Linked DNA regions of Homo sapiens: all the other regions are linked to region 1. The links come from fine-mapping of genetic effects on gene expression. A gene starts in region 1. Each other region holds a variant in brackets. All regions are shown on one strand. Distances are from middle to middle.

The links. PIP is the estimated chance that this variant, and not a neighbour inherited with it, causes the effect. A credible set is the group of variants that fine-mapping cannot tell apart.
Region 2: its variant is the best candidate, but not a certain one, in a credible set for the expression of AKAP6 in testis (GTEx, PIP 0.67).
Region 3: its variant is the best candidate, but not a certain one, in a credible set for the expression of AKAP6 in fibroblasts (GTEx, PIP 0.72).
Region 4: its variant is the best candidate, but not a certain one, in a credible set for the expression of AKAP6 in thyroid (GTEx, PIP 0.73).
Region 5: its variant is the best candidate, but not a certain one, in a credible set for the expression of AKAP6 in testis (GTEx, PIP 0.71).

Annotation. Positions count from the first base shown.
Region 1 is chr14:32,325,565-32,331,774 of GRCh38, forward strand. AKAP6 (A-kinase anchoring protein 6) reads left to right here and starts at 3,734. Exons shown (of 14, transcript NM_004274.5): 1 at 3,734-3,844. RefSeq lists an enhancer at 5,699-5,993.
Region 2 is chr14:32,688,437-32,694,646 of GRCh38, forward strand. All of the region lies in intron 8 of AKAP6 (A-kinase anchoring protein 6), which reads left to right. Among named protein-coding and RNA genes, the nearest start is that of NPAS3, 250 kb to the right of the region's middle. The variant C/T (reference allele first, on the strand shown) is at 3,486.
Region 3 is chr14:32,655,432-32,661,641 of GRCh38, forward strand. All of the region lies in intron 7 of AKAP6 (A-kinase anchoring protein 6), which reads left to right. It overlaps LOC124903298 (a long non-coding RNA gene), which reads right to left and starts at 5,074. Exons shown (of 3, transcript XR_007064109.1): 1 at 4,986-5,074; 2 at 4,418-4,454; 3 at 1,086-1,174. RefSeq lists an enhancer at 1,877-1,946. The variant T/C (reference allele first, on the strand shown) is at 3,389.
Region 4 is chr14:32,223,550-32,229,759 of GRCh38, forward strand. No RefSeq gene overlaps it. Among named protein-coding and RNA genes, the nearest start is that of RNU6-8, 23 kb to the left of the region's middle. The variant G/A (reference allele first, on the strand shown) is at 2,729.
Region 5 is chr14:32,714,288-32,720,497 of GRCh38, forward strand. The region is part of intron 9 of AKAP6 (A-kinase anchoring protein 6); the gene reads left to right. Among named protein-coding and RNA genes, the nearest start is that of NPAS3, 220 kb to the right of the region's middle. The variant C/T (reference allele first, on the strand shown) is at 3,116.

The sequences.
Region 1 (6,210 bases):
TTTCTTATACCTTATACAAAAATGAATTCAAGATGAATTAAAGACTTAAAACCATGAAAACCCTAGAAGAAAACCTAGGCAATACCATTCAGGACACAGGCATGGGCAAAGACTTACTGATTAAAGCACCAAAAGCAATTGCAACGAAAGCCAAAATTGATAAATGGGATCTAATCAAACTAAAGAGCTTCTGCACAGCAAAAGAAACTATCATCAGAGTGAACAGGCAACCTACAGAATGGGAGAAAATGTTTGCAGTCTACCCATCTGACAAAGGTCTAATATCCAGAATCTATAAGGGACTTAAACAAATTTACAAGAATAAAACAACCTCATCAAAAAGTGGGCAAAGGATATGAACAGACACTTCTCAAAAGAAGACATTTATGTGGCCAAAAAACATATGAAAGAAAAGCTCATCATCACTGGTCATTAGAGAAGTGCAAATCAAAACCACAATGAGATACCACCTCACGCCAGTTAGAATGGCAATTATTAAAAAGTCAGGAAACAACACATGCTGGAGAGCCTGTGGAGAAATAGGAACGCTTTTACATTGTTTTGGGGAGTGTAGATTAGTTCAACCATTGTGGAAGACAGTGTGGCGATTCCTCAAGGATCTAGAACCAGAAATAGTATTTGACCTAGCAATCCCATTACTGGGTATATACCCAAAGGATTATAAATCATTCTACTATAAAGACACATGCACATGTATGTTTATTGCAGCACTATTTACAATAGCAAAGACTTGGAACCAACCCAAATGCCCATCGATGATAGTCTGGATAAAGAAAATGTTGCACATGTACACCATGGAATACTATGCAGCCATAAAAAAGAATGAAGCTGGAAGCCATCATTCTCATCAGACTAACACAGGAACAGGAAATCAAACACTGCATGTTATCACTCATAAATGGGATTTGAACAATGAGACCACATGGACACAGGGAGGGGAACACCATACACCAGGGCCCTTCGGGGGGTTGTGGGCAAGGTGAGGGAGAGCATTAGGACAAATAGCGAATTCATGCAGGGCTTACAGCCTAGATGATGGGTTGATAGGTGCAGCAAACCACCATGGCACATGTATACCTATGTAACAAACCTGCATGTTCTGCACATGTATCCCAGGACTTAAAGTAATATAAAATAAAAAAAGAAAGTCTGCAATAAAGGAACATGTTTTTAACACTGTCACTTTATCATAAATAATGATATATAATATAATCTTGTTAGAAAATTTATATTTTATTAAATTATAATTTTATCTATAAATGGATAATTTGTTCAGAATAAACTACCCCAAAATCTTGGTGGTGTTTGTTTCTCACTCATTGCAGCCCAGTGTAGGTCAATAGGTAGTTGGGAGAGGATGGTTGAGCTCCATGCAGTCATTCAGGGACCCAGGCTCCATCCACAATGTGTGGCCATTATCTTTCTGGGCTTCAGAGTTCCACTGGATTCTTTGCATCCAGCTAGCAGGACAGGAAAACATGAAGAAGAGACACTTGGTCTTAGCCACCTTTGGAGTTGATGGTTTCCACTTCTACTTCCGTTTCATTGGTGAGTGCCATTTTGTGGGCAAGCAATTTAGCTAGTCCAGGTTGCTAAAAGTTTGACCTGGCCTCAGGTTTGATGAGCCATCCATTTCTTCCCATCAAATGATTGACTTGCTTCTGGCAAAAAAGATTAACAAGATTCTTACCATCTTGAGAAGCCATATTCAAATCTGGAACACCTGCTCCCACCCTGTCCTCTCCTCTTTATAGCATGTGGATTTCAGCTCTGGAAAGACTAATCTTGTTCTGTAATAGGTCCATGTCTCTTTATCTTCTCCAGAGACTGAAGGGTTCTTCAGAGGTATCTTAAAGAGTCAGCTTACAGCAAATGAGGTTGGAGGCAGTGGTTGAGAATGGCTCATCAGTCTGGGCTCTGGGCTTCTTATCTTGCCTCAACCAAGGCAGTCCAGCTTTGATCTGTATCATTAAAAGAAAGGTTATATTACTAATGAAAAACCTGAAAACTATGGTTATTAGCTAAATCAATCATCTCTGCAGATGAAAAACTTGAGGCCCCAAGAAGTTAATCAATTGGCCTGATATCACACAGATGCTCTAGGAGGACCTGACATTTACAGTTGGGTTTCCTGACTCTCAGATCTGTACTCTTTGTACTGGGGTAGCTGCCTGCTACTTCTCCCCTTGTGTGTGGCATGTGGTCTGAGGTCTAAGATAAAGGGAGGGAGTCAGGCTCTGCTGATGCCACAAAGGACCTAAGCAGGCAGATTCACCTCCTGCTTTTGGTCTCTTAATTCCTCTCTAGATGAAGCAAGAACAAGTCTGTCTTCCCATCTAGGGCAGGGTTGCTCTGTGCGAGGCTGATGGTGCACGCTGCTGGGATATTGGCACTTCTCAGGCATTTTATTAGCTCCTGTTTACAGAGACACTGCCTGAATTCCTTCTGCCACTCATCCCACACCGCCTATGCTGGTGGTTAACAGTGCCATTTTAAAATCTCAAGCAGGAGGAGACAACATAATTGTCTCATGTTTTAAGCTTTTGGAATGTTGTTCTTTTTCAGAGTTGTGAAGACGGAGTGGATACAGGTCAACTTGATTCTGCTTTTCTCTATCAATGGCCTGCAAATATTAAATATGCAAAACATAGGCTGCTCTGTCCATATCTCCTTCTCCCCAGTTCTCACCACATGACGTTGATTTCTGCTCAGGACTGGAAAGAAGTGATTGCTTTAGATTTGCTTTTCTTTTACCAACTGGAGAAATGCCTTACCGTGTCTTGTTTAAATGTGGCTTTTCACACAGTTCCAGCTTTTGGGGTTGGGGAGGGGCACAAATAATCTGTGTGGTAGGCAGTTTTATTGTTCAGAAAAGAAGAAAACAGACCCCAATGTTTGGAATGCCAACGATTTAGGAAGTTTCTAGCAGGTCTGCTACTTGTTCCAACCACTAGGTTTGATCCCAGAAAAGACTCACATGCGTTTTGGCCATGAGAAGGAGGGGTTCCCTGCAGGCCAAAGGAAGGGTCAGTAGAAGTTGAGGGTGGTGTGTTGTGCCCCTCTAGATTCCAAACTTCCCTTTGCTGCCTATCTGATGACCAGGTGAAAGCTGGGTTTATTCTGCATGGGAAGGTTCTGTGGGTTGGTGTTCATCAGGGAAAATAACCAGGACAGACTTCATTGGCCAAGGGTTTGCCCATGTTTTGAGAATTAAAACTTGTTTACTTGAGAGTTAGAGTCATTTGGTCAGCTGTTTATATTCCATTTTTAATTATTTTTGTGCTCGCTGTTTTGTTCTTTTGGTCTTTGACAGATGAGCAAAAATTCTTTTTAATAACTTTTAAAAAGCTATCCCAGTGCTGACCAGGGAGGAAAAAGTGATCAAATTGTCTAATAAGGAAACATTGTACATTTCAGTTTTTATTTGCTTAGTACTAATTCTATTTTCTCCTCCCACCTTTTTTTTCTAAATGTATAACAACAAAGGGGGAGATAATTTTTGTTTTTTCCAAAATGCTTTCAGGGAAATCCCTTTTAAACCTATGGATTTTAGTCCAATGAGGAATCCTCTTCCTTTGGTCTAAATTTTGCATATCGTCTGTTTCTTACAGGGCTTCCGTATTGTCTCAGGCTCCACTGGAAATGCAGCAAGGATTCCTAGCACATCCCAGTTGCCATAGCAACAGCAGTCTTTCCCATAATGAGCTGCATCATCTGAACTGATGTCACAGCATCATGCAGCAGGTCAAACAAGGCATCTCCTAGTATTGCATCCTACAGATGTGCTGTAAACATCAAAAGAAGACGGTGGGATCAGGAGATGGTGAGTGTTAAATGTCTGGGCCTTAATTGCACGGCTGTTTTGTTGGTTAGTCGGTGTCTGCTAAGGCGGAGATTGGGGGATGTTGTCTCTGCTTAAAATGGACTGGGGAAAGAAGGGCTGTTTTACCTAAATCGTTTTTCAGGCTGCCGGGTTAAGACAAAGGCCTGTAAGAGTCATATAGGAATTAAAATATGTAGAATTATTCTTGCTCCAGCTCTGTCTGTTATTTTTAAGTGTTCTTACAGAATTTTTCATAAACATAAGATGATTTTTCAATTGCAAAACCCCAGATAAGCTTTAAAATGAGTAGTTAACAGTATTTAAGCATTGTAAAAATATAGATTTCTTTTTGGGAGGCAGAGCTAATTGGCCCCCTCTTTGCTCTTGTGAATTATGAAATATTCAGTGATTTGCAGTATGAAATTCATTATTTACCTCGGTTGGGTTTCAGTTTCTTCATGGCAAGGAACAAATGCTGAATAAGCATTTGACATAACCCTGATGTGAAAGGGGATCTCTTGCATATTCAAGACAGAATTTATTAAAAGCATAAAAACCTAAACCAAATGAAATTATTTGAGCCTTTTGATCTATATGGTAGTTCTTCAACCCATGTCCTTCAGAGTTAGTTGAAAGACTGCCACATATTTTTCCATCTCTAGCTAGTCTCTGAAATAGCTGGAGTTGTTTGCAGGCTGACTTGTAACTGAGAAAGGAACAAGTCTCCTCTCTGCGGCAGTTGCAGTGAAGGGTAACCCTGGGAGAGCCTCTGAAGTGGCAGTGGTGTTGCCATCCCTTGCTTAACTTTAACAAAAATCTGGGTATGATGAATAAATATCAGGGTCCTCAGTGGTTGTAGGGATTACAGACCTCTGGACTCAGTCATAACCTCAACTCAATTCCAAAACTCTAAACACGTATCATTTTCATTTCAACTCCTAGCTCTGTTTTTAGGCATCTTTATTATTATTATTATTTTCTAAAAAATTAGTCTGACAGTGTCAGATAAGGAGCAGAATGTTGCCTTTTGTTTTGGGAAATGAAATGGATTTCCCTGGTACAGCTGATTGCTACTAGGGGAGAGAAAGGAGGAGGCACATGTCAGTTCAATTGATCAATATGTCCACTTAGAATCAGGGAGTGGTCTTGTGGCTTAATGCTGCCAAATTGATAGTTTTTACTCAAAAAGTCTTACACGAAAGAATGGCAACCATTGAATTCCTCTTCTTTTAGTCTGTTTATTGGGGCTAAAGAGATATATCATGGAAAGCAGGAAAAGCAATACCTTTAGCTAGCTTGGAGTGATTTTTTTTTTTTTTTTTTTTTTTTTTTTTTGCACAGAGTTAAGTATGCTAGTCCCATTAGGCACCAGCCAGAGGAAAGGCCTCAGGTTTTAATTTGTTTGTTTATACCACATCACGCACATGCTTGCTACTCTCAGTCCTTTAAGCTTATGTTTCTGACATGCAGCTGTATAGGATGGGAGAGGTCAGCTCAGCCTGGCTTTATCGCAAGCACTTAGAAGCATGAATTGTTCATTGCCTGCTTTTTTATGTCATATAATGTGAGCAGAAAGCTCTGCTGGGACTGCTGGGTGTGAACACATCTAAGTCGAAAGCTCTAAGGTGACAGGGAAGAGTGCTAGATGGTGATGGGGGAAGGGAAAGTATGTCTTGTAGCTAGATTATAAATCTGGATAAAATCACTTAGTGCCTTTTAGAATTTTCTTAAAGTATTATTTCTGAAGAAGAGCAATGAAGAAAGACTTGTTTGGTAACATGAATTTCTAGGAGTAAAAAAAAGCAAAAGGCAGCATTGTAATGAGTTTTCTGTTTGCTTAATTCTTGTCTCTTTTGTTTAAAGTGCTCTTCAGCTGCTTCATCATGGTTGATTTGTTCAATTACTGGAAGTCACAAAAGCTAGATTCCTTAAGGGCAGTGTTAGAAAAAGTGGAGTCATGCTTTGAGGGTGGGGAAGGGCGCTGGTGGGTGTGGACTGACGCAGTTATCTAGTGGAACATCCTCCCGGTTCAGACAACCCTGTAATTTTTCCCCCCGCAAATGTTCAAAATGCAATTACAGTTCTCCAACTTTATGCTTTTGTGCTCTTTTTGCTCCAGGAGAACAAAGCCCTGGTAATGAGAGCTATCATCCTAATGTTTTGTTTCTTCGTTTCTTTGTAGAGGGCCACAGCCTGCGCTGCTCTCTGATTAGCTGCATGTCTTAATTACTGGCTAAGGCTATTTCAGTTGTCTTAGTTTTAATATATCCCCAAGGGGTAGATGGTGTGTGTGTGTGTATAGGGGAAGGGAGAGATTTCTCTATGGCTGTATTTATTGGTGCCTCACTGAAACTTTCTACAGTTTA
Region 2 (6,210 bases), 360 kb after region 1:
AGGAAAAAGTAAAGTAAGAAAATAAACAAATGTGTATGTTATGTATGTCCTCAAGAAGGGCTATGATTTGGCTATGAGCTATCCATACCCAAAGAATAAAATGAAATTTTATCTATCAGAGAATTCATAGTGTCCTATGATTAAAAATAAATCTATATCAGATGACGCACAACTTCTTATGCTGTTGAGACCTGAGAGGAATTTCTCCTGTAGTTCTTTAAGGCAGAGACAGGTGTCTGTGATACTACACCCGTGCAAGAGAAGTCAAATCCCCAAAGCAGTTTTTTGGTGTAGGCTGCAGAAGTGATGTCAAAGCACAATTCAGTAAGAACAGTTCTGTAAGTAACTAAAATCTTGTAGTCCAAGCATAGCACTCTCTGGGTAGGGTCAGCCTGAATAAAGGATAACTTTTCATGTTAATTGTGCTACCAGGCTTTTGTTAGGATTGGGCAACAGACAATTATTTACAGGTTGTTGATATATTGCCTATTACATCTTGGAAAACTAGTGAGGCCTAGAATAGGGTAATCCTTTTATGAAATGGTGAACTGCCCAACTCACACCAGTGTGCCATTAGGTTTGGATCCATTCCCCTCTTAACACACAAATGATAACATAGGACGGTTTATCTTTTAAAAAAATCATCTCTTTGTCTTTTGAAGTACATTTTTCCATTTGTTCTTCCAACTACTGATTTAAAAATTCTTCAGAATGTTTTCTGTTTCCCTGGCTAGAACTTAGTCCAGCATATTATCTAAAAATTTGGATGAGCCTTTGACTTCCTGATAGTGTAACAGAATCCTCTAAATACACCCAGAAATCTACACTGATGTTTCTAATGTTATAGATTATCTCGTTGGTTAGAATTTTTAATGGATTATCTTGGTGCTTTATGCTTTTTATTTCAATAATAGGTGTTGGTGGACAGATGGTCCACGAGAAAGTGGGGCCAGTTATTAACAAGTTTGTAGGCTTGATTTTATTTTTCTTAGACCTGTTCACATGTACGTAGGTATATATAAAAACTGAGGAAATTACTGCTAGAAAGAACTCCATATTCCTTTTATTTATTAATGGCAAAGGCAGGCTGCTTTTCTCATGAGGAAGTTGCTCATGAATTTTCATTCAAAATAGTAAATTAGTGTCCACACTTTCATATGTTTAGAGTGGAAAGGGATTGTACATGCAACTGTGCATATCAGATTCCATGTCTGGAAAGCTACATTTTATTCTTTGATGATATTATGGTTGGAGATATAACAGGCACCACTATTATATCTCCCTTCTGTGCTTATATGACACATGGAGTAGAGGATGATGGGAAATTCTGATCTATTATTAGTATTTTACTTCAGTAAAATACTTAAACTATATTTTTGCAAGATTTTGTTACCACTCCTTTACGTGTCTTTTTTGAAAGCCAGAGGCAAACTTTCCTAGGCAAATAATGTGAACAGCGAACACTTAGTGAATATTTGGGGAAGGAATCAATATGCTAAAGAAGCTAGGAAAATTGGATCATTTAATAGAACTCCCAATATAGACAGGTGGTATTTCAGGAACCAGTCTGGTGTTTTTAGATGTCCTAGTGTGAATTAATATTAAGCATACAAAAGATGTATTCTTAAGTGCCCCAAAATACACACACACACACACACACACACACACACACACACACACACACGATTACTCAGCCTTAAGTAGAAAACCTGTGAGGACTTTTAGTGTTATATATTTTTTTCAACCAATAATTGCTCTATTTTGATGATTTCTTAATTTGGTTGTCTGTTTTCATCAAAATTCCTTAGTGAGCCCAGTTGAAACCTCATATATTCACACACACACACCTCCCATTGATTTCACTTGGGTGAAACTTTATCGTTTAAGCAAAGTTTAAGTTGAAATGTTGAGTTAATGATGCTCACTTTAAATACCAAAGGCTGAATGCATTTATGTATTCAAACACTTAGCTAGTCAAATATAACTCCCATCAGGGTTTAGAGGAAGGATTATTTCTTAAACTATGCTGGCCTCACAAGTAATATATTACCATCAAATCTGCAGAAAAATGATACTAAATAAGGTTGTTAGTATTTTTTTATTTATAAAAGCCCTGGAATCTTTTTTAACCTTAAATAAGGCAAAGTAAAATGGTGGGTAAGATGTTATGAAATACTTAGAGCAATTACCCATAGTGCTTCAACCCAAACTTAAAAATAAACACTAAAGAAAAATTTCGCACATCTATTTCTCTATAGCCTTGTCTGTTTAGATGCTTAAACTATAAAACAAATACATTTATAGTTCTATATTTGTCTAAGAAAAACTGACTTCAAGTTAGAAGACTTTTTCTCCCCATAACATGATTAAGCTACCTACATCAGAATGTCCAACTCCTTTATTGTGAACCCATTTAAGATCAAGTGTATGGCAAGTTAAATAAGAAATATCAAAAAGAATACATTTTGGTTAAATGTTTGCTTTATAACACTTTCATAGAGTATATATGAGTTTGCTTTATAACACTTTCATAGAAAATGTAACATATTCATAGAGTATTACAATGGTATCCTAACAGGCCTTTTAACATCTAGGAGCTCACAAATGAGAGTGAATGCATTGACATAAACCCAAGCATAATTACAAAGAAAATTTTATGAGGAAAGTCCCTCCAAAAGGGACTCATAGTTCTTATATTTGTATTCCTATAAGATTATAAGCTACTCACCACAATTTTAATCACCTCTCTCCCTTCAAAAGAGAGAGATGAGAGCAGTTGTCATGAGAAATTCAAGAGAAGATCCTGGTTCTGAATTCAGCTGATAGAATCAGCATATTCTCCAAGGGAATATAGAACTGTTAACTAGTTCTCCCCTACCCTTGATAAATTCATTTGTTCATGATCTTCTCTGTTTTCCTGCAGAGTAGCTGGAGCTTTTCCTGGAGCACATTGTCTTTTATAAAATCACTCAAAAAACACACCTTTGCAGCTAATATAAATGTAAGAAAGTGAACTCTTTCCTTACTTAAGAAGTTTCCTATAATACTGGGGACATTAAATTGTGGTCATTTCAGAATCTTTCAAAAGCACCTACAAAGAAATTCAATAATTTATTTCTGATTTGCCACTGTTTTTTTTTGAGACAGAGTCTTGCTGTGTCGCCCAGGCTGGAGTACAATGCCATGACCTCAGCTCACTGCAACCTTTGCCTCCTGGGTTCAAGCAATTCACCTGCCTCAGCCTCCCAAGTAGCTGGGTCTACAAGCATGTGCCACCATGCCTGGCTGATTTTTGTATTTTTAATAGAGACGGGGTTTCACCATGTTGGCCAGGCTAGTCTCAAACTCCTGACCTCAGGTGATCTATCTGCCTGGGCCTCCCAAAGTGCTGGGATTACAGGTGTGAGCCACTGTGCCTGGCTTTGATTTGCCACTGTTATATGTTTGATTTCACTAAATGTGGAAAAATCTCAGGTCTTTTCCAA[C/T]TTGTGGATTAACACATGGCCAAGAATCTGAAATCAGGCACAAATACTTTTAAGAAAAAAGTTTTTGTCTTCTGTTTTGAGACTTTGTGAGAATTTGTTGTTTAGCACATTGGTGCTCATTGGGTACCAATGAAACAAAATGTGGTACCAAGGCATTTACTGTATCTAACAAATCAAGTATCAAGTCTAAATATTCTCAGCTAGGATGAAAACAAACTAGACTGGATAAAGGGTGAGTATCTGTATTAGGTTCATTTGCTACTTGCAGGTCTCCAGTGTAGACTGTTTGAGAAAAAGTCTTAAGTGACTTTTGTTCGAAGGCCCATGATAAGGAGAATAATAGAAGGAAACAGTTCAATAGATATAAATGCATGCTAAAAAGCCAGTGAAAAAATTCCCATGCTTCAGAACATTTTATTATTTTATATATTTTTTAATTTATTTGAAAACTATTCATTAATAATTTTCATGTTCATAAACCTTTATCTTTCACTATAAAAAGAGGAGGAGGTGAAAGGAAGGGGAAGGCAATTAACATTGATTTAACATCTACTACATATAATCATTTTAAGTAAGTGAATTTACCATTTTAATATAGTAAAAACAAAATCTCACGTAAAGAATGAGTAAAGCAGCCTGTTCATGTTGCACTGGTTGTATTGGTATTGGTCTTTGGCGATGAGATACTGTTGTGTCTGCTGACACATGCTGCTTTTCTGAAGTCATTCTTGCCCCACTGAAGGTTTTTGTTTTCTTTATCTAGATTCATTTATCATCATTCACCAGGGACTATGCTGGACACTGAGGATGCAAAGATAATAAATTTATCTCTTGCCCTTGAATTTCTTAGTCATAATCAAAATTTCTTTTTCAGTGGTGCACATGTATGAAAAAGAAACAAGCTTCTTTCTTTTGTCTTGCCAATTGATCATTTTTATGAGGCACCCTACACTCACACTTTCCTAGAAAAGCAAGAAAAATACTTGCTTTAAGATCAGAGTTCAGGCTCTTAGACACATTATAGCCTCTCTAATAAATTAACATTCTCTTTAGGAAATACTCTCTTGGGATCAATACTCTGTTTTTCAGATTTTCTATTTGTCTCCATTCTTTTCTCCAAGATGACATCTGAGCATATAGGGATTTACATGATCTTGTAATTCTGGGGTGCAGTGGAGTCCCCTGGCTTAACACAGTGCTTAGGTACAGTCTGGCTGGGCTTATTGAAATGGGTCTTGTCAAGGATATTATGAGGCTTCCTCCCACAGAGGGCTGTAGCTGGTCTAGCTTATGTTGTTACCTCTTGGCTTGGTCAGGGACCGGTGGTATTTCTTGCTGACTAAGCCTCAACTCAGCCCTCACTGACCCTGCCAACTCTCTGTGGTCTGGATTGAGAGGCCCACCTGGCTCTCCTTTTGTTGGGGAGAGGCCGTCATTGTGCCTTTGTTGTCATGGCAATGCCTCTGTCAAGTTCACCAGCTGACCTCTCAAGAACCCTGGAGTCTCTTCTTGGGAGAATGAGAGAACAACAGAGCAAAGAGAATTCTAACCGAAGATCTCTCTCTGTCTACAACATCCCCACTCCAGGTTATTGTGGGGACAATATATGAGGCAATTTCCTCGCAGAGTTCTGACCTGGAAATGAAGTTGACATCCTTATGCTTTGGGCTTTTTTCTCAACCTGTCTCACATGCCTCCTTTCTAGGTCTTAGGCCAGGAGAGAGGAGAACACACATCTGAGCACCTGCTCCTCCTGCCTTATTTTTTATTCTCCAAATCCTCTGACGTGGAAAGGGTGAGCTTTCTCTTCCTTTCCCCTTTGCTTTAATAATCCCTTGAATCAGATACTCTTCTAATTTTGTGGGTGGCATTCCACTTTTTCTGTCTGTATGATTAAAATATAGGAGGGTGCAAGGAGAGAGAAATAGGGACTGTAATTCAGGAAGTATTTCTAAATGGTTATACCTCTCAAGGAAATGTTTATTAGTTATTCCTTATTAGTCACAGAGTCAATAAAGAAAACCAGATGGTTTATTTTTTATTTGTCTCTTTTATAGTGGTCGGGTTTTGTTTTGTTTTAGTCTTTCGAAATGGGATACTAGTTCAGATTTCACATATATGCTGGAGGTCTTTGCTACTCAGAAAGTGTGGTCCATGGGGCCAGGCGCGGTGGCTCATGCCTGTAATCCCAGCACTTTGGGAGGCCGAGGTGGGCGGATCATGAGGTCAGGAGATCGACACCATCCTGGCTAACAAGGTGAAACCCCTTCTCCACCAAAAATACAAAAAATTAGCCGAGCGTGGTGGTGGGCGCCTGTAGTCCCAGCTACTCGGGAGGCTGAGGCAGGAGAATGGTGTGAACCCGGGAGGCGGAGCTTGCAGTAGGCAGAGATTGTGCCACTGCACTTCAGCCTGGATAACAGAGTGAGACTCCGTCTCAAAAAAAAAAACAAAAAAAAGCGTGGTCCATGGACCAGCAGTGTTGCCAACACTTGTTAGAAATGAAGAATCTCAAGCCCCACCCTAGAACAGTTACTGAATCAATATCTTCATAACAAGATGATCAGTTTCACCGTATGTGCATTGTAGTTTCAGAAACACTGCTCTAGGCCACCATAGCCTTACTAAAGGTTTTAACTACATCAACTATAACCGTCATTGGCATCCAGTAAACATTTATTAATAAACTCCACATGTTAGCCAATGTTGATGCTTGCCCTTGGGT
Region 3 (6,210 bases), 330 kb after region 1:
AGTAACTCTGATGTGTCAGGCAGGGTCCTAAATATATTGGGAAGTCCTTAACTTTAAGAAGCTCATAATTTAGTTGGGAAGCTAAGACTAGCAGATAGATCTCTGCCAATGCAAGGTGGTCAGTGATACATAGTGGATGAATAGAGACATAGAATTGGGGAAATGAAAGAGTTGTTCGTGTTGGCCCTTAGAGGACTTTTTGGTTTCATCGAAGTAAGAGAGCAGATTAGAGAAAGCGTTTCATGCAGAAGAAATATTTGCAAAAACTCAGGGTCAGGAAGCCTTTCTATTTGGGAGCTGGTGATAAATAGACAAATTGCCTGGGGAAGATGGTTATGTAGAAAGTAATGAGAGATAAAATTTTAAAAGGAGATTAGGGTCAGACTGGGGAAAGCGTTTTTTACCAATCTAACTTTTTTGTCTAGGTAGGTTGCATGGACCATATTGTCCCAGATTTATGGTGATCATGTTATAGAATATAATCAGAAATCTAAAGAAAGTCAATGTATGTTAGATCTGTCTCTCTTAAGATAAATCTATCTGTTTTTCTCAAGATAAATATCTCTCGTCTAGATATTTCAGTGAAAGTCAGAGTTGGTTGACATGAAACATAATAAAAATCTAGCCATCTAGTGATAAAGTAAGTATTAAAAGTAGAATACCAACAGAACTAATTTGGATTTTTTTAAATAAATGTGTTTGGAAAAATCTCATGCTTAAAATGCACTCATGAAGCAATATTTATAGCGTGTATGACTATAAAGATATATTAAACATAAACATAAATCTTTCTGTTTTATGTGACTTTTATTATCTGCCCATCAAATTTAGTTAATTATCAAAGGTGACTCTATTTAATGAAAGCTGTGTCCCAACAAAACCTATTTTCTTCTCCCACAGTGATCTACAAAGAAGTTATGAGATTAGGTACAGAGTATTTTGCTCACTTTCATGACCACTGCCTGTAGTATGAGAAATAGAAGACAGTGGTTTCTCTCCTTCTTAGCAGTTCTCCAGATTTACTCTGAATAAGCATCACCTGGGAGTGCCAGCCAAAACTGACTCACCTGGGAAACTAAGATTTATTCAGTCCTCACTGGGCCTGGGAATCTGCATTTTAGTGAACCCACCAGCTGATTCTGAAGCTGGTAATCTGAAGACTACTTTCTGAGACCTAGAATGAAGGGGAATACATACGTTTAGTGTAGAGCAATCTTTCGCTCATAGGCAATTGTTTTAAATATTATTGACAGTTAAGTAAATGCCTGTGTTTATACCCAGTTAAGTAAATGGCTCAGTAGTTGATGCTATTGTTCCACTCCTACATCTCTGAAGGACTTCTCTAAGGAAGGCCCTATGAACTTAAAACCTACAAGGAAGTTCGTGAGGGTTTGTCACATGTTTATAAAGCAGGGTTCTATGCTTCTTAAAGCCCTGGCTGTAAATATGCTTCTCTCTGTTTATCCTGCTTATACCTTTCCTGAGTGAAAGCCCAACTGAATTTAATTAGCAGAGCATAAATAGTACTGACATATGGCAATCCAATATATGGAATTTTGTCATAATACAGTTTATAGAATAGGGGAAGAATTTGATAAAGACTCCACAAATTCACGTAAACAGAACTGAGAGGTGTCCTTGCACCTATTTACAGGGTACTGCCCTCAGCGCAGATCCAGAAGAATGGCCAGATCCTGCATGATCTCCTGGGAGCCCTGGCTCTGATTTGACATAGGGAAAAAGGTCAAGAAAATCACTGTAACTTGGGGTATGGCTTTGCAAACCCAAGAAACATTCATTTCCCCATTTGTTAGTTGAAAAGGAGTACAGAGAAGATGCTGACTCATGCTGACCCTGTAGTGGCTGTGATGAAATAACCCGTGGCAGGAACAAGAAGAGAGAAGCGCAACCCTCGGTAGAGTCAATGGAAGCAATTCCAATGTTAGTAACAGCTTAAAGCAGCAAATGAGCCTACAAATCTGTGAGTGCTGCTCCCTAGCTCTTTTTCTCTCATTACACCAACATTTACCACAATGGACCTAATTTTTGAGATTTTCAGTTTAGATTTAAACGAAAGCTCATGAGATCCAGGACACTTTTTGTCATGGTCTTTCAGATTTCTCTGTGTCTAAATATTGCCTTATATCCAGCACGGGCTTACTAGAGACTTTGTTGTTTTTAATTTTGATCTATCTGCAGTATTATGATTGTTTTTCTTAATGCTTAATCAGGAAGGATATGATTACTTTTTCTGTGAGTGTACATGTTTTTAAAAGCTCACCATTTTTTTTTTTACCATAATTTTATCATGTCTTGGGATAAAAGAATACAATGATCTGCTACATGGATACCATTTCTACAGTACTTCTATTCCATATAATGATGATGCTGTTTTCATTAAAGTAATAAAAAAAATCTATACAGCATATGAGCAGGATTTGAAAGTTGGCACATCTAATTATCATAGTAAGGAAAGAACATGAATGCCAATTTTATATTTAACAAAAGTCATCCTTAATTGTTGGTGGTCGCACACATGGTAGATTGACAATAAAGAACTAGTCTAGCACATTTGGATCTTAAACATAAAACAAGGCAACGTAGATTGTTTTAAAAATGAAGTTTGTGCTAGTCTGAGACCTCAGGTATTAAATGTCTTCAGAAACTGGTGCTTTCTTTGATCCCTGAGAAAGATAAGAAGAGGTTAGGAGGTAGATGGTCACATAGATAATGCTACTCTATATAGTGATTGATTTATTACATATAAGGAAGACGACAGTCTATGGGGATTTTTCAAGCCAAAAGTCTCCTGCCTTGCAAATGATCATTGAGAGATTACAATGTAACTCCTGTTTAAAATGTGAAAGCTGTTGGCTCTATAATTTCTAAAGAGCATCCTTTTTTATTTTAATGATGTTTTCACTCATATTGTACATATCTCCCTGTTTAATATTCTAAATTTGATGTGTACTTCAGAAGTGATCACTGTTTTGTGATTTACAACCTTGGAGAAAAATAACATAGTAGTCATAACTTTGCAGTTTTTTGTGATGCATGAAGATCAGATTTTTTAATGTTGGTTAATGCTTTGCTAATTAAAGTATGCATGTTAATTAAAGCAGAGGCTAATGTTAATTACCTATATTAATGGAATCTCATGTAGCACCTGCCTGAAGCAATGGGTTCAATTTTCAAAATATCTCAATTAAGGCTGAAACTTTTGATTTGCATCTAGTAGGGTTTCAATTAACTGCATTGAAAACTTAAATAACACTCTTAGGGGTGCAAAATATCAGTGATTATATGAAGCACAGTGGAGTTTGGTAGGTTCATTTTTAAAGTCTTCTTTAAAAAAAAAAAAAAAGCCTAACTATATTTCTTTCTTGTT[T/C]ACTGGCCAAAATTCTGTTTACTCACCAAGACCCAGTGAAAACACCACTTCTTCCATTAAGTATTTTCCAATTCTCAACCAACTACCAGAGCTTCAGTTTGTTGTTCTTATTTATTTTATATTATTCTGTTTTGTATTATAGTTAGTTGTTAGAATTTGTGTCCTTTGCTAACTAGAAGCACCTTGTCTTTATCACTTACAAAGACAAGCACATTTGACAAGACACTAGCATGTTTTGTAAGTTGAAGACACTCTTTAAATGTCTGTAAAACCAGTAAGTACATTTATTGACTAAAGTGGATATGAGTGAACTTTTAGCACACGATGATTCCGCTGTTGCTACATTCATGGCTGCTCCAAGTAAAACATGAAGCTGCTGTTTGAGATCTTATTGCTTTTCAAATAAAAGATTGGCGTTTTCATTAATTTCTGTTAAATCTAAGCTGGAATGGGGAAGAAGTTACCTGTTCAAGTAAAAATAGTGTTATGAAACCAAAGAACATGTGTTTGTGCTGTCAGGGATGATGTTAACATCCTCTTTTGGTCCTAGATTTGTATTCTGACTGTACTGCAAGCAGATCTGCCTTGTGACCATAAGCACAAATACTTTAAACAAGCTGTCCATCTAAGAGAGCCATCAAGGGTTGGTGTTATTTCGGAAGATAAGACATGGAGTCATCACGTGGTGACAGCTCAAATCTTAAAATAATTAATTAAAAATATAGATTACTGGAGACAAGTACATTGTAATTAGTATGGATATCAGTTTTCCTGAACTTATTTTTATGTTTGCCAAAGTCCCAATAACAACCATTCCCACTGGGCCTTTGGAAGGGATTATGAGCTAATGGTACTAACCTTTTCGACATCTAGCATAATGATGGTTTCAGAAAAATAGTTTCCATAATTGAAGGGAGCAATAATCTCCTCAATAAGTATATACAAATAGATTACACACTGATTTACAGTCCCTGGAAATCTGCATTGATAACTGCTGTGCCTTGGCAGACTTTGACTCTGATAACTTACCATCAGTCTCAGAGGGCTAAGATTTGTCTTCATTCAGCTGTAGAGAATAACAAACAAACATAAGATTTCCATGTATAAGGTGTAACCGACAAGGTGACACAAAAGACACATAACTGCTTACTGTACTGATGTGCTATTGGCATGCTGGTTAAAAAAAATATATATATAAAGAAAGGTAAAAGGGAATCGTATTGATTGGACAAGAAGATGTTAGCTGTTGTCTTAATGGCAGAACCTATGATAGCTGGAAATAAGACGTGAATGTGTCCATTAATGAAGAGTGATGCAGGTTTAGATTTGGTAGTGAGAGCTCACATATTTCATGTCACACCGGTTTAACATTGGCTAGTTAGTAGATGGAATAAATGCAACAACCAGTTGGAGGAATGTGACAGATGTGCATATCAGACTTTCCAGGATGAGGCAATGGGCCAGGTCTTTATAACTTGAAGAGCAAAGTCACCAAAGCAGCCTTTCCCCATTGTGCCACCATTAAGGTAGCAGATGGCAGAGCATTAGCAAAAAGAAATTGAGAACAGCTGGACAACATCTGGTAGGAAGTGACAACCTAATGGGTATGCTGGGTTGTTCCTAATTGTGGGCAATCACTCAAAAAGCCTGGAAAGAAACTTCAATGTGTTGGTTGGTGGGAGGAAGAAGTTCGTCAGAGCAATAAATTCTAGTTCAGGAATTTGAGGGAATTCTGAAAAGAAGTGACTTTAGAGCCTGGCCAAATGAATTATGGAACATTCATTTGTTTCCCCCCAGGTTCTAAATAAGAACAAACTTTTTAAAGGAGTTTGTGAGGCCTATCTGGACCTGGAATCTACTTTAGGTAGATATTCGATTCATGAATACTATTTAAAACGTGAGATTCTGAGAGTATATGGAAAGGTTAGATGTTCACAGAGAATATGGAAATGCTAATTAAACTGGGGTGAGGGAAGTGGAGTATTTAACAACTCAATTCACCATTCCTGTTTCTTAATTTACTATCTTATGGCTTTTCTGGGACCTAGATAAAATTTAAAAAGCTTTTTGGCTATTTCTAGCTCTATATATTTTCTTCCCCGCCACCCCCCCCCCTCCCAATTCCAGCCATTTGTCCTTGTGTGTCTATATCTCATTGCTCCCTCTCCTGCTTTCTCACAAGGATCACCTAACTTTTCATGACCTCTCTATCTTTCAAGACTCAGCACTGGGAGAGTAACATTTCATTTTGGGAAATGTAGAGAAATAGTGACAAATAGGTAGAAAGGAGGTCAGAAGGAACAGGGATAGTGTCTCCAGAAAGGAATAGTAGGAAGTCAAAATGCAGAGAAGCCAAGGGCTCAACATGTGCTGCAACTCCAGCCCTAAATTTCTAAATTACTACAGGACCTCCTATAAATCCTACATATCAGTAAATCGTGATAATTGTATAATAATAAATCCTGCTGCTGATTGGGAACTAGCAATCAGAATTGGAAAGGAAAAATTCTCACAATGAGGCTTCATTGCTTACCACACCCTGGATATTTAAAGGGAAGGAGTGACAAAGCGGTTGCATGGTAAGCTATAACAGGGCACGGTAATCAGAGTGTGCAGACAAGGAATGCACGATTGTGCACACTGCCAAAGGTGCAGAATCAGTGTCATTCCTGGAGGCAGTGGGAGCAGAGAGTTTCGATTAAGTCCAAGACTCATAAGACAAGTACATTGGGCCTTGCAGAAAGTGACCCAAGTACATACCTTACTCAGTAGACTTGATGCCATACCCCGGCTCTTTTAGTTGTCCATGTCTGTGCTGGCAG
Region 4 (6,210 bases), 100 kb before region 1:
GGGCTATTTTTATATGTCTTTGGAGACAGAGTCTCACTTTGTTGCCCAGGCTGGTTGGAGTGCAGTGGTGCGATCTTGGCTCACTACAACCTCTGACTCCCAGGCTCAGGGAATCCTTCCCACCTCAGCCTCCCGAGTACCTGGGACTACAGACACATACCACCATGCCTGGCTGATTTTTGTATTTTTTGTAGAGCCAGGGTTTTGCCATGTTGCCCAGGCTGGTCTCAAACTCCTAGGCTTAAGCCATCTGCCTGCCTCAGCCTCCCAAAGTGCTGGGATTACAGTTATGAGCCTCCATGCCCCTCCATGGGCTATTTTTCAGAGTGTTAGAAGATGACTAGTAGCATGTGGGCATAGGGAATGGGAGCGAACCATCTTCTCTAAAAGGCTGATGGGAGAAATTAGTTCTTACTGACCAAATGATCAAGTCAGAGACTCATAGAGCTTCAGTGATGGATGGAGCTTTAGCAAACAACTCCCTAATTGTGCAGATGAGAAACTGAGGCTCCAAGAGATTTGTCCAAGGCCACTTGGGAATAGACAGAGTAGAATTCCAAACCATATCTTCAGAGTCTAACTTTATGCCATACTATGTGAAATTGCGTTTATTTTTTCAAGGTTTCTAGTTCAGTCCTGCATTTGATATGGCCAAATGAGTCTTGTGCTTTGTTTTCTTAAGAAAGAAAATATTATTTTCTTGTTAGCAGTCATACCAGAAGCTCACAAGTGGTTTACACACCAGATAATAAACTCCTATTCGTGGTCTGAGAGAAAGGTTGAAAAAAATTTATGTAAAATATAAAAGGTAAAAAACATAAATATCCCAACCCATTAGTGGATCCAGTTCTTATTAACATTCCTTTTTCCTGCTACATCTCTTTATTTTTATGATGTCTTTGGGCTTCCCAGAGTGAACGATGATTTGTCTTGAACAAAATAGAATTGTTCTTGAATCCTGCTGGTGTAAACGGTAATCTAAATAAATGGAAATAGATATAAGTCCCAGGAGTAAATCAGACTGCTTGCTTAAAAAAGCAAGCACATAAGTCAATATTTTTTTTCTGATAGTAAGAAAAATTCACAGAGCTGAAACTCTATCTCCTTACCCACATGTAGACCTTACTCAAGCTATTTTTTCATTTATTTATTTGTAGAAAGATAGGTTTTCTCTTTTCTTCCTTCTCTTTATTATCACTAATTTTTGGGAGAGGTCTTTGGTAAGTTGAAAACTGACACACTTTTGCACATGAAAGGGGGCATTACTGATTATGCTGCTACAAAGTTATGGGACTGTCAGATCAGAACATTTAGTCACAGACTATACCTATACATCCTCCCGGACCTCATGGACATAACTGAGAGGTTAGGCCTTTGCTCATTCAAAAACAGTTATTCAAGCACAGATGCATCTGCCACTGCATTAGGCACTGAGAATGTAAAGCCGACAGCTTCTATGTTAGTACCATATGAGCTATTCTTTCTTCAGCCTAGACTTTCATAACATGGAAAAGTAAGGCAAAACCTTCAGAGCCGAGTCCACCAGTTATGATTCTGCTTAGCAGGGCTTGTGCATATATGGCTTCCACCTGGTCTTGCCCCCCTGGTGGTGGCTGCACACGCTGAAGCATGATGAGTCAGAGCCGTGTGATTTTGTTCTGCCTCTGCCCTGCATAGGCTGGTTTTAATCAAACGAAAGCCTAATCCTGTAGTGAATCTTATTAAGCCCTTTGCCCTTCCCCATTCCATCTGTTACATGTCTCAATTTCTGTCCCCCAAATGGAATAAGCTGTGTTTTTTTTCTCAGATTTTTTTTTTTCTTTTTGTGTTTGATGTCTTTCAGAGATAGGCCTGGAGTCAACAATTACAATCAAGCTGAATTGAGTCTGGCAGAGGATTTTCAGTATCCCAAGTTACTTTCAATGCTCCACTTGTCTTATCAGCAAAGCCTCTTATTTTCAAATCTAGTATACTGGGAAGCTCTGCAGTTGGTTTCACAGGCTTTCCTGCCAGGACCACAATTACTGTCTCCCCAGGGTTTAAATACTGACAGAGCCTTGGGGCATGCAGTTATGGTGCCATTTTCTTGGATCAATAGGTATATGTCCTTCCTAGCCCTGCTATAGAACTCAGGTAACTGCTGGCAGGTGGATCACAGTCTTGCCTTAGTGGGTCTTTCTTATCTTTTTGATCTATTGCCTAGTTTGTCTTACTAACCGTATCATTCACACACATCATAACCAACTTAATTTGAAAATAGGCCTCCAGGTCTCTGTCCAGGGAATAGCAAAAGAGTACAGACAAATCTTCCCCAAGGCACATATTTCTGTTTATTGTAGTTTCTCTTCTTGACAGGTAAGAAGAGATAAGGTTTTACTCTAGAGGAATGAAAAATACATAAAAGGTGTTGATGATATGGCAAGTTCCAAATTTGGTTCTCTTTCAGCAATCACAGCCCCTGACATCTGGACTCTCTTCCTCTCTTGTTTTCTATTGGTGTTAATGCCTGTTTCTTTCCTTTGTAAGGTTCCTTGAGGGGAGTGTTCTTGTGTCTCTGTCATCTTTAAAGCTCTTCCTCATGCTGGTGCTAAGTACATTGTTTTCCACAGATAAGATAATTGAATGTTTCTAAACTCAGTACATATCTTTGGTCTGTAAATCAGTAGTTCCTTTATTTGATGCTTCCTTATACTGAAAGACTCACTGAAAGGTTCTTAGATGGAATGCA[G/A]TATAACCACTTGAGTGTTAACCACTCAAATGTCCTTTGAGCAATAAGGCCTTGCCAGAAAGTCTGGAAAATATGAAAGTCACTCCATGTGCAGTTCTGTGGGGTTTTTCTGTTACCCTCGGAGCAGAATCTTCAGTCCTCTAAAGATGCAGGTAAAACATGGAATTGGTGCCACATCTAATCTTTTCACTGTCATGCTTACTGCTGTTGCTAATATATACACACAACCCCACTTTGCAATGGATGGTAGGAAAGGTATCTTAGACCCAGGAACACTCAGCCAAACTGGGGCCTGGGACCTGCCTTAACAGGAGCATCTGACAACCTGGGTTGTTGGCTCCCAAATCAAATTAGGCTAGTATGTGTCCCATCGTGAACTGGATGGGGATCAATCAGGACTAACAAAAAGCAAAGAAAATAAGACGTAGGACAATTTGCCACTTGATTCTACATTCTATTCCTAATAAGTTAGTGTTTCAACCCAGCTGTAGCTTGCTTTCTACCCTATTTGACACTTTCATATTGTTTCTCTCTATTAATAGTCATTGGGCTTCTTGTCAGCTTGGGATTATTATGTTTCATTACTGTTTCTGGATAAAACTCCGGTTGCTGGGAATTCTATTTGTGTTGTGTTTGAGAGCAATACAAATTTCTGCTTCACTGATGGAGATGGTGAGAGATGGGCCATTATGAACAAATGAAGATAGTGCAGCATTAGGGAACTTCAAATGAGTTTCCAAGTACATAAGATATATGCAAAAATGTATTATAGCCACTTTCTCTATTTGGAAAGTCAACTCCCTCTTTTTTAGGTCTGGGTGTTAAGAAACTTGAGATAGTATTTCATGTATTTATGTAGTGAAAGCCATGAATTTGGTGGGCAAAGAGGTGTCATAAAGGACCAAGTCTGCATGGACATGCAGTGTCCCTGCACAAAGCCCATCTCTAGTCACCCAAGTATGTGCCCCTTCCCTCAGTCAGTCAGGAGGAAGGGGAGACTTTTTGTTATTTGCCCAGAGTGGTTGCCTTTTTTCAACGGTAGTAATATTAAGCCTACCAAGAAGAAGGAAAACTACCACCAAGATCTTTGTCTCCATTATCAAGGCACATTCCCGAATCAGCAAAGACACAGAATACAGCCCTTTGATTCCAGATAGGTGGTCTTTGCCTAGCTCCATCATTTTGTTCTGTCATGAGGAGCAATTCAGGAATGCTGGCTATTAAATTTCTTCTGGATGGCTCTTGCCTCCACGCCCTTTTTGGGGCCTCATAATTTTACACTTAAAAATCCTGGCCAGACGCAGTGGCTCACACCTGTAATCCCAGAACTTTGGGAGGCCAAGGCGGGCAGATCACGAGGTCAGGAGTTCAAGACCAGCCTGACCAACATGCTGAAACCTCGTCACTATTAAAAACAACAAAAAAAAAATTAGCCAGGCATGGTGGCACGTGCCTGTAATCCCAGCTACTCAGGAGGCTGAGGCAGGAGAATCGCTTGAACCCGGGAGGCGGAGGTTGCAGTGAGCAGAAATCAAGCCACTGCACTCCAGCCTGGGTGACAGGGAGACCCCGTCTCAAAAAAAAAAAAAAATTCTTATTCAGCCCTGACTGATACCAAACAAAATATACCTACTAAATGCAGAGTTTCTAGTTCCTGAGAATCCCTGGTGATTGATGCCAATTGTAGTGCTTTCAGCAACAGCTGAGAAAGCCAACAGAAACCTAGAGAGTTTTTAATGTAAGCTTAAACAGCCAGGTGAGGCTATGTTGGAAGGCTCTCTTGAAGTATACAGATTGCGAGGAGATATGTGGGCTCTGGATTGACAGGGAAGTTTTATTCTGGTAAAACTGTATATAGGCTCAAGCCAGTTTAGTCAAGGACAGGTCGTTTCCTAGTGTAACTTGAACTTAGGTTTGAGGAAGGGAGCTAAATTTCAGGAACTTGAACTTTTAAACTCAAGTTTAAGAAAAGCAATGAGATTGCATACTCTTTAGACATGGACCTACTCATTAAGTTTCTTTGCAGCTACTAAGATAGTGTTTTACCCTTGGTGGACACTCAATAAATAATAAACTGGATTGAGTTTTCTGAAGGTAAGAAGCAAGTTGGTGGAGAGTTCTGATTCTGGTATCTTTCAGTCGCTTTCCTCTCTACAATTCTGTGATTCTAGCAAGGCCAGGAGGCAGCAGGTTTGAGAATAGGAAAGAGATTCAGTGTGGCTGAAACATGGAATGTGAAGGAATTCTGATGAGAGATGAGGCTGGAGAGGTATATGAAAGCCAACTTATTATTATTATTATTTGAGATGGAGTCTTACTCTGTTGCCCAGGCTGGAGTGCAGTGGCACAATCGTGGCTCACTGCAACCTCTACCTCCTGAGTTCAAGCAATTCTACTGCTTCAGCTTCCTGAGTAGCTGGGACCACAGGCGTGCACCACCATGCCCAGCTAATTTTTTTTTTTTTTTTTTTGAGATGGAGTCTCACTTTGTTGCCCAGGCTGGAGTGCAGTGGTGTGATCTTGGCTCAGTGCAACCTCCGCCTCCCGGGTTCAAGCGATTCTCCTGCATCAGCCTCCTGAGTGGCTGGGATTACAGACATATGCCACCATGCCCGGCTAATTTTTTTGTATTTTTAATAGAGATGGGGTTTCACCATGTTGGTCAGGCTGATCTTGAACTCCTGACCTTGTGATCTGCCTGCCTTGGCCTCCCAAAGTGCTGGGATTACAGGCGTGAGCCACCGTGCCTGGCTGCTAATTTTTTTTAATTTTTAGTAGAGATGGGGTTTCACCATGATGGCCAGGCTGGTCTCGAACTCCTGACCTCAAGCCATCCGCCCACCTCGGCCTCCCAAAGTGTTGGGATTACAGGCATGAGCAACCACACCCAGCCTGAAAGCCAACTTGTACAGGTCTCTTCAGTTGGTGAAGGCATTTGGGCTTCACCCTAAAACAGAGCGGAGTAACAGAAGGGTTTTTAGCAAGGGGTGTGACATGCTAAGATATATATGTTATAAAGATTACTGGGCTTAATGTAAAGAATGGATTGGAAGACAGGTAAGGGCGCTGTTATTGCAATTTGGGGAAATGAGGATTTTGGCCTGAACTAGGCTAGTGAGTGGAGAAAAGTAGATGGATTCAAGAGAGGGAATTGGCAGGATGTGAGGAAGTTTGGGTGAGGAGGAGCAAAGGGTGAAGCATGATTCCCAGGTCTTTGATTTGGGCAGTGATGGAGTGTGGTGCCATCAATAAGACAGGGACCATAGAAAGAAATGGGTGAGGAAAGGTGGTAGAGAAAACAGTGGGTTCAGTTTTCTACAGTTGGAGTTTGAGGAGCTTGTGGGACATCCTAGAGATGTGTAGGTGGCAGTTGGATGAATGGACCTGAAGTTCTGAAGAGAGCTATCAATTGAAGTACAAATTTGGGAGTTTATGATGTAGATATGGGAATAGATATGGGAGTAGATGCATTTTTTCAAGGA
Region 5 (6,210 bases), 390 kb after region 1:
TTACTAAAATGTAACGCAGAGATACAAAATGAGCACATGCTATGGAAAAATTGTGCCAATAGCCTTGCTTGACACAGGGTTGTCACAAACCTTCCATTTGTAAACATTGTAGTATCTGTAAGGCATAATAAAACCAAGTATGCCTGTATTTTTTTTAAAGTACCATAAAAAGTGTATAATTTCTAAATACTACACTGCTTTTGGTTCATTTCAGACCATAAAAACATAAATATATATTTTATGAAACTTCTTAGACACTTTCCTTTTCCTTTTACTTTTTTTCAGTGGCAGATAACTTCCATTGGATTCTCTGCAGTGTCTTTTGCTGCCTGTAATGGAAATTCAGCTTTCTCTTTGACGTCTTATTTTCCACACATTTTAATTTTTCTACCTTCTTCTTTAGGCAGAATTACCAAATGCCCCTCAGTTTTTTTCACAGCATGGAACAGATATATTCACTTACATTTCCATTGAAACTAAGTCATTTCATAATATATGAGCAACCTTTTCTTACCTTCTGCTTGTATTGTGGTACACACATTGGTAGTTTATACAGTATTTGAATTGTCACATTGGATGTCATGGCAAATATGACTAAAGACATTTAGCTGTCTATGAGGAAAGGACCTGAATAGTCCCTAAGGCATTTTGGTAAAGAACAGACTCACGTTTGAATTCGAAGTCTACACCCTGGGAGACCTAGTGACAGGCAATCACTCTAATTTCAAATTCCCTACTGGGGAGGCTTCTCTGGAGAGCTATATGGTCGAAGGCAGATTCATATTTGCTTGAGGAAAAAATGATTACAAATTTTTCTACCTTGCAAACTGTACTAATTGGCGTCAAATTCAACTAACAATTTATGAAGTTTGCATCACTTTCTGTGTGTTTAAGCACAAAGACATTTTTCACCTGAATTCTCTTATTTTATCACATATATTTTGAAAATTACATATGTCCATCTAATACATATATCAGGAATTAATGGTCTAATTATTTTACTTTTACTTAAAAGGAATAAGGAATGATGTTATCTCATTTTAGTGACTGTGAGGATGAGACAATAAGAATTCATTAGGATACTATGGTGTGCTGTGGAGAACCAAATAAAGGGAGGTTATCCTTTTCCTTAAGTAATTTATAATCTACTTAGAAAAGCAAAACGAAAAAACATGAAATAATAGCAAAGATAGCAAATTTATGTGGTATGAAAAATAAGTGCTAGTCTTCTTAGAAAGTCCTCATGGAATAAATGATATTTGAACTGAACCTTACTGGATAGAATTTAAATAACTGGAATAGAGATAGATGCATTGCAAAATAATGCATTTTAGGGGGAAAAAAACCTCAGATCTAGGAAATAGCTTGGCATGTTCCTAGGATTTTACCAAAAACAGGAAGACAAACTGGAGAAGAGGAAAATCAGTGACAAACCATATAGCTTTTATCCCATGTGTTCAGTGAAAGTCAATAAAAGGAAAGATTTTTTTTTAAAATTCTAGTGAATTCCTAGATTCAATGTTTCATATAGTGAAGAGAAGTTATATATACAAATAAGGAATTAGTGGCATAAAAGAGATGAGAAAAGTTATGCCAGAGATCATATTTTCTTAGCATGCAACTCTGCATGCTAAGAAAATTTTGAACAAACATTTGTATATGGTCTTTACTATGTAACAGAAATTGTTCTAGGATCTTTGCAGATACTGGCTTATCCAATCCTCACAGCAACCTAATGAAGTATTAACAGTATTCTCAAATGAGCAACTAAGGCACAGGGAAGCACACAGCTAGTAAGCAATGCAAGCAAAGTTTAAATATGGGCAGTCTGATTCCAGGCATATATTTAATTTTTTTAATTTTCTTAATCAATAGCCTTTTATCTCATTGATTTACAAATTAAAATGTTTGGCATGGTTTCTGTCACCATGTTTATGTTTAATCACTCATGAGCGATTAAATGGTTACATATGTATAGGTTTTAAGAAGTAGTATTAATAGGTAATATCAACAAGCTCCCTCCTCCCTTCATTAAGAGTCAAGAAAAATAGTAAAACTTTGTCACTGTATATATATATGCACTGTATGTATTACGTACTATATCCTATTAGGCTGGTGCAAAAGTAATTGGGATTTTGCCATTGCTTTTAATGGCAAAAACCACAATTACATTTAGTATATACTATAGTATACACTATGTATTTAGTATATGCTATAGTATACACTATGTATTTAGTATATACTACATATATACTATATACTATGTACTCTCTCTAAATATGTATATATTCCTGTCTTTTAGAAAATACATAATATATATAATTATATATTATCTACATTATATAATGTATATTAATTATATATTATATGGTATACATTATCTATCTATCTATCTATCTATCTATCTATCTATCTGTATTTACCTTTCTAATGACTTCACCCTGATGTGTGATTTCTTTTACTCTCTAATATGGCCAATCTCTAATAACAATAGTTACAATACATTATTTCTAAGACAGAAAATAAAAACCATGGGAAATTTGCAGTCTTGCTTTCACATCGGTAGCAAACCAAAAAATCTTATTACAAAACTCATCTGTGTTAAAATCAAAGACTTCTTATTAATGGTGTATTTTATATCGGGATCTAAAATTTCTTACAAGTATGATCTATTTACCTCTTAAAATACCTGTGTTAGACAAGTGGCAAAGATAGCTTTGTCCCTGTTTTGCAGATGGGATGACCATGGAAATATGAAATGACCTTCCCTGGAGCAGGTGGATCAGGTGGATCAGGTGGCAAGCCACCAAGAGAACAAAGGCAGAAGTAACAGTTGCAGGATTGATGGTGCCCAGTGAAGGTGCTTAGGGAAAATTCTCAAAAATCACATGTTTTGGTACTCACATCTTCTTGAAAAGTTATCCCTTGTTGTGGCTATAAGCTGTGCTAAATGGCCACATCCTTGTACTTCTGCTTCTTTTGGTTCTAATATCCTCTTAATGAATTTTTTTCAGCCTTTATGCAAAATGTTTAAGTCATCAACATCATATTCTGTCATCTGTTTATTTCAGGGAAGCCATTCACTAAGACCTTTTCTCCAGCTGTAATTTGCTTC[C/T]TTTTCTGCAATGCTGTTTATTTTTATGTAGTTTTTAGGATTTATTCCCTGTAGACTAGGAATTGTTTTTCCTATCTGGTGAAACCTTTGTAACTTCCCCTATTTACTTATTAACTTTCTCTCCATGCATCTATGCATCTCCATCATTACATTCTCCAAATTTTCACTTCTTCCTCCTCTTTACTTTTATCACTCTTGTCTCTTATCACACACACACACACACACACACACACATTCTGTTTCTCTTCGATGTAAGAGAAACTTCTTTGAATATTTATAGCAGACTCCTTTACATAGCTGAAAAAGTGCTCAAAAGCAGTTATAACCAAGGTTTGTTCTCTATGGTCTTAGTTTATACCAACAAATTTCCACTTGTACCCTAGAGCTTCTTTAAACTGTGAACTGTCATTCTTCTGAGTGACAGGCATGACCATCAGTGAGAACTCTCCTATCTGCCCTTTTAGCCTCAACCTCAGGCTATTAAAAATCTGTTGGGTTTTTGAGGATGAGCCTACGCCAAATGAATCTGGCTAAAGAGGTTCAAGAGTAGGGTTCTTAAGTATGTGTTGGCCACTCCATTGTCACTTTGTATGGCATTCTTGACTTTATTTACATTATACTCTTAGGGCCCACCAATTTCTTCAGACTTCTGGACTGAGATCTAAAGATGTATTTTCAAGAGCAGTAGTATGGCTTACCAAGCTAAGCTGAAATTCCTCCTGAAATTCTATTTGTGGATTTTAGTACAATCTTACTGACCTTGGGCAAGTCACTTAGCTTCTATGTATCAATTTTTTATCTGTAAGACAGAAGTAATATTACTAACTTTCCCCATGGGCTTGCCATAGGAGAACAGCAAAAAAAAGAACAATCCATTGAAATGACAGTCAAGCTTTCTGAGGCTGCAGCAGCAGCGTTTAAGCCTTAAAGCCTAAAATCTCTAAAATTTATTTTGTCAAAATATTTTTCTGACAAATATGGGTAGGTACCCAAAAGAAACAAAAAGGCCCAAGGGGTCAGGGGATGGGTAGAACAGAATGGTTTTTAAGCCTGTAGCATACTGGTATCGGAACTAAAAATTAGACTTAGCCTTTCGCATTCTGATCAAATGTTCTTGCTATGAGAAAACACTGCCTCATAAAAGGTGCCCTTAAAATATTCAAAGAACTACTGCCACCTTCCTCTTTTCTTTGATAGGTTTTCACAGAAGCTTTTCTTGTGTTAACCGTTCATGGCCATGATAAACAATTAACTTTGTTCATGGTTTCTGTCTGAAAATTGAGAATAATATTCCTGTATTGGATGTTTCACCAAATAAGTTTTTCACAGAAAATGAAGCTCAAAGATAAAGCAATCACACTGTACTCATTTCTGTGTACTAACACTGTATCTGGCATATATTTCAACAGCTCTCTATATCTGCCTGGACTTTCTTTTGGGAGAAATTCAAATGAATAAATATTTTCCAACAACCTCCTACATTTAAACCATAATGCTAAGAATTACAGTGGGTAAAGAGTGAATGACATGTGGTCTCTGACCTCCTACAGTCCCTTGTAGAAGCTTATAATCTAATTCTGAAACCATACTTATCCTCATCTGAAGTGAAGGCACCAGAGATATTCTTAAAAAGTAGCATAAGAAATCAGATATTTTCACTATACAGGGATTTGAGCAGTCACCAAGAAAAACTCCATAGCATTATGGATCTGTTAAGATTATAGATGTGAAAACCCTTTGAAAATTAAAAATACTCTGCCAAAAAAAAAGTCACAATGTGAATACATAAAGGTATAATGGCACTTGCATTGTGTTTTGGGAACAGGCAACCCTGGAAATGCTTTGATCAGCTCTGTCTTAACACCTACCATCGCATGGTAAATTCTGGGTGCAGCCTCTCAGTGCTGGAGTCCTTAGTCCTTGGGGAATGCCCATTTGCATGAAACTTGAAAAGATAGTTTTTTGATGATGACAGTAAGGGCGATAATACATTCAGCCTTTATTTAGGCAACTGATTCTCATAGATTTCAAAAGTCACCATGTTCTGCAGCAACACCTTTTTGATAAACTACAATGGTTACAGTGTTCTACTTCTCATTTTTCTTCTTATCCTCAGAGAGAAAGCAAGATATCTCTTTGAGGAAATATCAACAGAGTTAACATAAGAAATATATAGTTTCTTCCTTATGAAATTAATTTGGCATTATTTTTGAGGTGTGGAGCATCTTGGCAACTGCTTTGGTTTAAAACTCTATGTGATTTGGGAAAAGCACGTTTCAGAATGTTTAATTCAGTGATACAAAAGGCACTAATGAAATATGCATGTATGAATTTTATATCATATTAGTTCCCTCTTTCTTGAAATCTGAATAAAAGCCAAACATCTGGATTATGTTTGAAAAGCCTGAATTTCCAATTTTCAGAGAGATCCAGTCTATTTTGACATTGCACACTTAGCCTTCACATTTACAGTGTGCTATTAACATTACTTGCAATTGTAGAAAAAAAAAAGTCCAGATTTAAACAAACTTGGTGCCTCCTAATGCTAAAAATAAATCTATATTTGAAATGGCTGCTGCTGCTGCACAACCATACACATCCATAGTTCAGGCTTCTTCAGCATTTTCATTATAAATACTTGCACTGAACAGGCCTATAATTCAGCTATAAAGATATGTGGTAACCTATGATACATAAATTCTCCTTTGATTGTATATTAAAACAACAAACAGCAATTCATACATCACTTAGTTTGAGAAACTATTCACTGACTCAAGGCTTTCTGAGGGTCTCAAATATTCAAGATACTCTGTGGTCAACTAAAGAAGACATAGCCACCATCTTTTAAAGTTTATTCTTCAAATTTACAAGGCAAATAACATTTATGTTTTTATAGATATTTGGGTATATTTTAGCACCTAGACTAAAGGCAAGTGAATATTTATGGTTTTAGTAGCTTAGAGATGTAAATATGCATATCATTGCTTTATCTCATTTCATTATCATAGTTAACTTAGGAGATAGATGGTCAATCAAGTTTTAGGCAAATAGTAGTCTGTCCACACAAGAGGTCATGGAAGATAGAAGAATGTGAC